Regions from separate parts of the Homo sapiens genome. Here region 2 is linked to region 1. Evidence: fine-mapped expression QTL. A gene starts in region 1. The other region holds a variant in brackets. All regions are shown on one strand. Distances are from middle to middle.

Region 1 (4,390 bases):
CTATCACAAGAACCACCTCCATGATTCAATCACCTCCACCTGGTCCTGCCCTTGACCTGTGGGGATTATTACAATTCAAGGTGAGATTTGGTTGGGGACACAGAGCCAAACCATCCCCCAAAACTCACGTTGAAACCTAACCCCCTGTGCAATAGTACTAGGAGGTGGGGCCTCTGGGAGGCACTCTGCCTTCATGGATGGATGACTGCCCTCCCAAAAGAGGCTCCAGGGAGCACCCACATTCCTCCCTTCCACCATCCAAGGACACGTCTATGAATCATGGGCCGTCACCAGACACTGAGTCTACTGGAGCCTTGATCTTGGACTTCCCATCCTCCAGAACTGTGAGCACTACGTTTCTGTTTATCGTAAATTACCCACTCTAAGGTGTTTTGTTACAGCAGCCCCAACAGACTAAAATGGTCCATGAGGGAAGAGGTTGTAGCTCAGATACCCATGTCAGGCATATAGGATGTGCTTAATTAACACTTATTGATCGAATGTGTATGTCCCTGTCTGCCTTTCCATTTTTAGGCAGCTATTGATGGTTTTTAAACTATCCAGCAGAAGTATTTTTAATGTAAATTTCCATGTGGGAATACATTTTCACACAAAAAAAGGCACCTTTTCTTAAGTGAAGGCCACGTAGATTGCCAGGCTGGTGCAATTCACCCAAGAGCTATCCTATACAATCAACTTCTGGCTTTCAAATTATTTTAACTCACTCACTAAAGATAAACTTTATTTTCTTTTCCCAGCTTTTTAAAGCAAACTTCACAACTTCAGTGTATTTGCGGGCATGCCCTCTTAATCAAGGGTGTCAGCTTCTTAGTTTTCTTCTGTTCCCACTTTAACAAAATTGTATTTAGAATCCTTTCATTGAGTTTTGCCACCTTTGAGTGTCATTCAATCGAACAATATCTATATGCTGACAATGCTGTCATTTCATCTGTTACCACCTGAATCTCCACTGTGAGTCCCAGCTTCTCGGATGCCCACTCCTGTCTCCACCTGGACATCCCACAGACACCTCAAATTTGCCAAACCTCGCTTCCCTCTGCCCTCCTGGAGCTTGGCCGTCTCAGCACACGCACTGCCATCCTCCCAATCGCTCAGCCCAAACCTTGGAGCCGTGCTGCCCGACACAATTCATCATGAATCCCATCAGCTTTCCCTTCCTGAAGCATCCAGACTGCAAACGTGCTTCCTGCTGCATGGCTGCACCCTCACCCCCTCCTGGACTAGCCGGCAGCCTCCCTTTTGACTTCTCTGGAATGTTCTGTTCTCCACACAGCAGCCCAGTGATCCCTTCAGAGCACAAATCTTTCCATGTCAATTCCTGTTCCCTCCAATATCTTCCCAACACAGTGAAAATGAAACACCAGGTTCTTACCTCAGGCTTCAAGGGCTGATATGGTTTGGCTGTGTCCCCACCGAAATCTTATCTTGAATTGTAATCCCCATAGTCCCCACGTGTCCTGGGAGGGACCCGGTGGGAGGTAATTGAATCATGGGGGTGGTTTCCACCATGCTATTCTTGGGATAGTGAGTGAGTCTCAAGAGATTTGATGGTTTTATAAGGATCTGGCATTTCCCCTGCTTCAGTCATTCTCTCTGCTGCCACCCTGTGAAGAGGTGCCTTCTGCCATAATTATAAGTTTCCTGAGGCCTCCCCAGCCATGTGGAACTGGGAGTCAACTAAACCTCTTTTCTTAAATTACCCAGTCTTGGCTATTTCTTCATAACAGTGTAAGAAGGGACTAATACACAGGGCCTACATCTGAAAGCAGCAAACGACAACCCTGGGGCCAAATCTGGCCCCTTAATAGCTCTTATAAATAAAGCTTTATTGGCACACAGCCAAGTGTTCATTCATGATTGTCTATGCTGCCTCTGCTACAATGGTGCTGAGCTGTAGTGACAGACACTATTTGGCCCTTCCCCGCTTTCTCCCTCCTCCCTCCCTCCCTTCCTTTTCTCCCCTTCCTTCTTTCCATCCTCCTGCTTTCCCTCCCTCACTCCCTCCTGTCTCTTTCCCTCGTTCTTTTCTGTGTATTCCACACACACCTAGAACGTAAGCTGCATGTGACTTTGTCTGTCCCGCCCAGTGCTGTGTCCCCAGGGCCTATCTCACCTCCATTGACCACACACGGGCATGGGTGCCACCTTCCACCTTGCACCTGCTGCCTTTACCTTCTGTTCTCTGTCTCCCTAAATATCTCCCAGGGTCCTCTGAGCCTTCACCGTTCATTTCTCTGCCTGGCCTCAAACAGAAAACGTCAGGAGGGAAGCACACAGCTGCACAGGTCGTGCCCCGAGGCTCCTGCTGCCGGCACCTCCCCCAGCCTGGACTTTGGCTGTGTTTGTAGCCCTGTCCCAGCGCTCCGGGTGGGAATGGCAGGCTGCGTCCCACTGCTCCAGGGCCTGGTCCTGGTCCTCGCCCTCCATCGTGTGGAGCCCTCAGGTAGGCATCTGGCTTACCTGTCTGTTGTGCCTGTGCTGTGTCTTTCTTGACTCGGTCCATGGTGGATTTGTAGATGAGGCTTTTTCCAGGAGCCAGAGGAGCCCTGAGTGCCCAGACTAGTCTTAATTCCCCTGAAAAAGCTGTTTGGATCTTTATCATTTGGTGACAAGTATTTGGGACATGATAGTGTCACTTGGGGTCCTCCCAAGAGATGCCCAAATGGAAAGAAGCCTGTGTGCAGGGGATTCAGCCGGGAAAGGCCGGGGAGAGGGGAGGGGGAAAGGGGGAGGAGTGGGGGGAGGCCTGGGTTGGGCATTGGACGAGGGGAGGGGGTGGGGCAGGCTGAGCCCAGACTGCAATGTGGGCAGAGAGAGCCTTGGCCAGGCCAGCCAGGAATGCCCAGTCTTGAGTCAGGAGACATAGCCAGGGAGCAGCCACCCTGCCTGCCTGCCACCCTTCTACCACCAGCCACTTCACTGAAGGAACGACATGGACTCCATTCTGACTCTGCCTGCACAGGCGTCCAGGAAAGCTGCAAGTCAAAACACCCAGCATCCCCGCTGGCCCCATGGTCTCCCGCTGGCCCCATGGTCTCCCACCCTGAGAGGGTGATCCCCCCGCCCTGCCCTGCCCAGCACTTACCGTAGCCGGACTTAGCTGAGCCCCCCCTGCTGTAACCCTCAGCACCGAGAGAAAAGGAGGGAGGATGGGAAGGGCCTGGGCTTTGACCCTCCCGGAGAGGGAGAGAACATGCTTTGGGACCCTCAGGTGGGAAGAGGCTCCAGAGACCACTGCCGCGGGTCAACTCATTTGCCTTCTCCTCCTGGAAATCGCAGAGCCTGCTGCAATGTATAAGTTTCTTCTTTATGTGTTTTATCAAGATGTTAAATGCTGCGCACAGAGGCAGCACAGGAGCTGATGGCTCTTGGTCCCCAGTTCTCAGTACGGGGACCTTTGACCCCAGCTCAGCCTTCCTTCGCACTCAGACCCAAAACCCAGTTGGAGCCCTCCCTCCTCCACTTTCCTGACTGAGGCCCGTGGCCTCTCTGCAGAACCTTAGTGTATCCGCACTGATCCTGGGGCTGATCCATTCGCCCAGAGGATGAAGTGCTTGCCTACCTCGGGGGAGGGAGTAGCGGGGTGGCCCTGAGGCCCTCGCAGGCTGAGAGCCTGTGGAGACGGACGGGGCTGGGGCTGGCGGCCGGCCGGGGAGGAAGCCAGGCAGCTCTGGAAAGCAGGGCCCTCGGTGCTCCCAGTCACCTGCCTTCTTGTCTCGTCTGTAGTATTTCTCCCGGCCTCCAAAGCAAACGACGTTCTGGTGAGGTGGAAGCGTGCGGGCTCCTATCTTCTGGAAGAACTCTTCGAGGGAAACTTGGAAAAAGAATGTTATGAAGAAATCTGTGTCTATGAAGAAGCAAGAGAAGTGTTTGAAAATGAAGTAGTCACTGTATGTACCCCCACCACAAACCACAGGCCTCCTCATTATTTAGACTTCTGCTGGCCCAGGGAGCATCATTTCTCAGAGATTAAGCTTAATTAATTAGCCTATTTACTTACCGATGAGGTTGACACAATCCCAGTTTTACAGATGAGGAAACAATTTAGAGAATCGACTTAATCCACCTTTCCCTACAGCAGTGAGTGGGGCTGGAAGTCAGCTCAGAGCCCACTGGACTCATTTCTTCAGGTCAGGCAAGGCCCACACACTGATCAGACACCCAGCATACATTTTCTTTCTAGGCTTCAAGTCTGAATAATTCTCCTAATTTTAGATACTCCTACCCCAAACTAAGTGTCCCCACTCCCTACAGAGGTATATATCTTTAAAATTCAACTCGGTTTATAAAAAGCGAAAAGGTGATGTGACTTCTATATCATGTGCTTTTGTGGAGGGTGGCGTGGAGATTGGCCCTAGAAGGGAAGGGC
Region 2 (4,390 bases), 46 kb after region 1:
ATACAGTTAAGTGAAAAAAGCAAGTTGTAAAAGAGTATGTATAGAATGCTGCGTCTTGTATAAGAATGAAGGGAAACAAGAAAAATATGTGTGTTTATGTCTGTGTGTGTGTCACATGTACATCCCAAAAGGAAATACAGGATGGAGAAGGCAGAATCTAATGCAAATGATTATCTTTCTAGAGAGGGGGGTGGAATGAGGTGAGAGAGAGAAGGAAAGTTTCTGAGCACACCTTTAAATATAAGTTACTTACAACCCCATTCAAGAAATAAAATAGAAAGACAAACCTTAAAATTGAAACAAATAGAAAATACATACCTATATGAGTAACCTTTGAAAACAGTAGTTTGTGGAATTTGACTGTCCTTATTCTAAGGACAAAAAGACTGCCAAAAACAAAACAAAAAAAATCCTGAATTTCAACATCACTGAGTAGAATGTTGTTGGTGGCACTAGGGCCCTAATCCTGAACTGCTTGTGAGTGCAGTGGGTAGGGCGGTGTCGCCGGGACCACAGTCGTCAGTGAGAAAGAGCAGCACTGGCACAGAGCAGGAGAAGGGAGAGTCCCATGGGATTTGGGTTGGAGGTGTAAGCAGGAACTTAACTTTATCTTCAGCTGAAGCCATCTGAAGACTTGCAGGTTTTCTGCCTTCATAGGAAAACTACAGCCATTCAGAGGCAGCCCTCCTGCCCCAGTCCATGCAAGGTCACAAGCTGCTGCTCAACGTCACATCATAGCCTAGCTCCTGACATTTTCAAAGTCACAAATGGGTGCAAGACGATTTGGGCCCAAGTATTATGGAAACTAAGTTTCTCTTCATAGCCCTGGCCACAGGTTTAGGGATTTCATCTAAAAGGTAGACAGACAGATACTAAGATCCTCAGCTGTTTAGGGGAAAGGGTTAGGTTTCCTCTTTAAAATCACCATGCTACAGATCAGTATTTTGCAATTTACAACACTGCATTTGCCAATCATCATCAAGAAGCTGAAGATGGCCCCAAGAAGACAACACTGGTATCTGCCCATCCTCTGCAGGAGGCTTTCCGGTGTCCCCTGCCCACGCCCTGCAAGAACTCACTGGTGCCCAGCTCCAAAGGGGCCTCCTCTGGCTCCCTCGAGACCATCTGACCAGGTGCAATGGAACAGCGCCCTCAAGGATGAGGGTGGCAACTGCCTTGGCCAGGCAGGCACACTGCGTCTTCCCCGTTTGCCCTCCCATCAGTAGTTGGCCCTGGGATGGAAGGCAAAACAACCGATCCCACCCAGGTCTTGGTCTGCAAGTCCCCCAAGAAAACCAGTATTAGTCAGTTTAGCCCCAGAGAGGATATGCCTTCCAAAGTGGCCCTCCCTGTGCCATGTGGGCAGGCCTAGCCACAGGAGCCCCAACAGACTCCAACCTTGCTCAACTAAGGGGCTTCTGGCTAGAAAGCGGTTCTGGAGCCTGCTGGCCAAGCCGTGCTCTCTTTGGTTCCACACAAACAGGAGGTTCAAGCTAAGAGTTCCCCACAGCCACCCCTGCTTATGGTTCCAGGCACTCCAGGCCCCGCACTGTGCGATCTCTCGCACCACCCAGGGCCTTGCACTGGGCCCAGCCCCAGGAGCCTGAGAAGAGGAGTGTTCTGGTTAACATCAGTACTCTGGTGACAGGTCACACTTGAGCATGATGTTCTGATGTTGCCAAGGCCTCCAGAGCTCTCTGCAGAAGGAACCTATGAGTGACTGAAAGCTGAGAGTCCCAGACTTGGAGCAAGCACTGTGGAATGGAAGCATACTTCAATGACTAAACACACTGGGGACACAGTGGTCACGAAGGGATCAAACCCTGGAGTACAGACACCGGGGCCCTCCAAGGAGAGGCGGAGACCCCTGCTGGGGGCACT[C/T]ACTGGTAGCCCTCCTTTGCCTGTGACCTCCCAGGGTGGTCCCTGCACATATGCAGGGTGATGTCGCCACATCCTGGGCTCTGCTTGGCCACACCTACCTGGGCTGCACCCAGTGTCCCACGGGTGACCTGACCAGAGGAGGGCTCAGTGCCACAGGGCCTTGAGCCCAAGGAGGGCCCCAGCTTGCTTGGCAGGCATGAATGTGTCCCAGGGGTGGTCCTATCAATGCCCCTGCCTCAATGACTAAACTGTGAGAAGACTGGGGATGTGAAGAGGAAAAGCAGGGATGGCAACGGACGGTACTTGCAAGCCCTAAAGGTGCGACTGGCGCCGCAGTGGACACAGGACCCCTAGCAGCCCAGCCACCTGGCCAACTCTTAACAGCTCATGCTGCAGAGCCTTCAGCCCTCAATGGGACCACACAACCAGACTCCAAGTGAGCACCTTCTGAGCGGCACCCCCAGGCCTGGCTCACCAGGGGATGCTCCCTGGCTCTGGCCCCAGGAAGACTTCCTTGTGGTTGCTGCATGCCCCTCACGCCCTCCAGTCTGGTCCACAGGAGGCACCATCTACTCTTGGAACTCATAACTCTTTTAAAAATTCAAAATCATTACAGGTCATGAACCTCTGAAGTCACTTCTGAATAGTCAAACTTTCCAATTCCATAAACTCTTGAAAGACAATATGAAGAACTACTGAAGATTAAGGAGTAAAGTATCTAACTCAAAGCTGATTCCCTAAATAAAGATGTTCACTACACCTGTAAAAAAGAGAGGTGTTCTTGGCAAAAGGAACATAATGAAGAAAATCTTTGGGACAAGAAAGATCATGGGGTGCCACAAGAAGATACCACTCCGCACCCAGCAGGATGGCCATAATAAAAAGAATGGAAAAAAACAAGCATTGACAAGAAAGTGAAGAAATTGCAACCCTCATACATTGCTGGTGAAAATGTAAAATGATGCAGCTAGCTGCTTTGGCATTTCTTTAACAAGTTAAACACAGAATTACCATATGACTCAGCAATTCCACTCTTAGGTATATGCCAAAAAGAATACAAAACCTGCGCAAGAATGTTCACAGCAGCAGCACAACAGCCAAAAAGAGGAAACAACTGAAGTGGTCCATCAACTGATGAATGGATAAACAAAATACTCCATACAATGGAATATCATTAGCCATAAAAAAGAACGACACACTGACACATGTTCCAACACAGATGAACCCTGAAAACATGATGCAAGGGAAAGACACACAAAAGCCACATACTGAAATCACCAGAGTCAGCAAATCCATACAGACAGAGAGCACATTAGCGGTTGACAAGCGCTCGGGAGGGAGGACCAGGGAGTGACTGCTTAATGCTTATGACATTTCCATTTGGGGTGACAAAAAATTCTGGATAATGGTGATGGTTGTGCAATATTGTGAATGTACTTAATTGTGTACTTTAAAATGGTTAAATGGTATATTTTAAGTTATGAGTACTTCGGTGGGGCAATGGTGCATTCAGCATAAGTGAAATAAACCTTCAGACTGGTGATGCCAAGTTAACAGGTAAACATGGACCAGATGATGTGCTAAAGCATTTGGAACTTTCCCTGGAGGAAACAGAGAGTCAATGAAGTTTTAGTAACAGAGGCAGATGCTCAACTCTTCTTCAATAAAATACCAGAACTATCATTTACTAAGTAAATGCATTTACTGTGAATTCATGGTCTTTTTAATTCTCACAACTTATGTGAAGCCTGTTTAGAGATGGAGAGTCACAGAAGTTAGATAACTTGTCATGGTCCCAGAATTAGTAAAAATGCCAGGATTTGGGCTGAAGTCTTATTGTCTTTAAAGTCTATGGTCTCTTTGCTGTGTCTCACTTGGAAAGGGCAAAGTAAAGGAAACCATCAACCAGTACCTGCAGCAGGGCGTCCTGGCTGGGGAGCATGTGGCAACAGATAAAGAAGGGATGGATCTGAGAGACTTCGGAGATACATCCAATTAGGTAAAGGACTATTTGCTGAGACTAAAGGAGGAGTCAATGATTTCCCCCAACTTCCTAGCTTTGATGAATGTGCAAATGATGGTTTTATTCCCAAAGAGATACAGTGACATTGGCACTTATGTTCCTATACAACAAATCAAACATGTGTTACCATGTATAACCGGTTGCCATTCTGTATCGAAGAGGCACCTATTTTCTTAAAATATTCAAGAATCTGTTAATACATAAAACTTAGGTAACATGCCAGTTCAACCAGAAATATTTTTATCCATCAGAATTAGGAGGAAGCGGACTTTTTGCTGTCTCACCCCAGTGGCTACACTGCCCTTTGCGGAGATGTAGGCATGCACATCTCCATAGAAGTCCATCCTGGGCCCAGCCCCTGTCTACTCTCTCTACTTGTTCCCTGGGTCACCCCTTCCCTTCTCAGTCTTTCCCATCATGTGACTACGAAGGAGTCTCAGGTTTGTATCTTTAACCCAAATCTGTCTGTTTAAACTTCAGTTTACA

Direction of the effects. Alleles are on the strand shown, and positions count from the first base shown. SD is a standard deviation of normalised expression in the study named.
For the expression in liver of the gene that starts at base 2,382 in region 1, allele C in region 2 goes with a lower level than allele T (moderate effect, 0.46 SD a copy in GTEx).

Evidence for each region. PIP is the estimated chance that this variant, and not a neighbour inherited with it, causes the effect. A credible set is the group of variants that fine-mapping cannot tell apart.
Region 2: its variant is the best candidate, but not a certain one, in a credible set for the expression of PROZ in liver (GTEx, PIP 0.80).

What each region holds. Positions count from the first base shown.
Region 1 is chr13:113,156,267-113,160,656 of GRCh38, forward strand. It overlaps PROZ (protein Z, vitamin K dependent plasma glycoprotein), which reads left to right and starts at 2,382. Exons shown (of 8, transcript NM_003891.3): 1 at 2,382-2,464; 2 at 3,748-3,911. The coding sequence starts at 2,395. LOC124903216 (a long non-coding RNA gene) reads left to right here. Exons shown (of 4, transcript XR_007063880.1): 4 at 264-344. RefSeq lists enhancers at 1,865-2,442, 3,019-3,596.
Region 2 is chr13:113,202,594-113,206,983 of GRCh38, forward strand. The region is part of intron 1 of PCID2 (PCI domain containing 2); the gene reads right to left. Among named protein-coding and RNA genes, the nearest start is that of PCID2, 3.9 kb to the right of the region's middle. The variant C/T (reference allele first, on the strand shown) is at 1,882.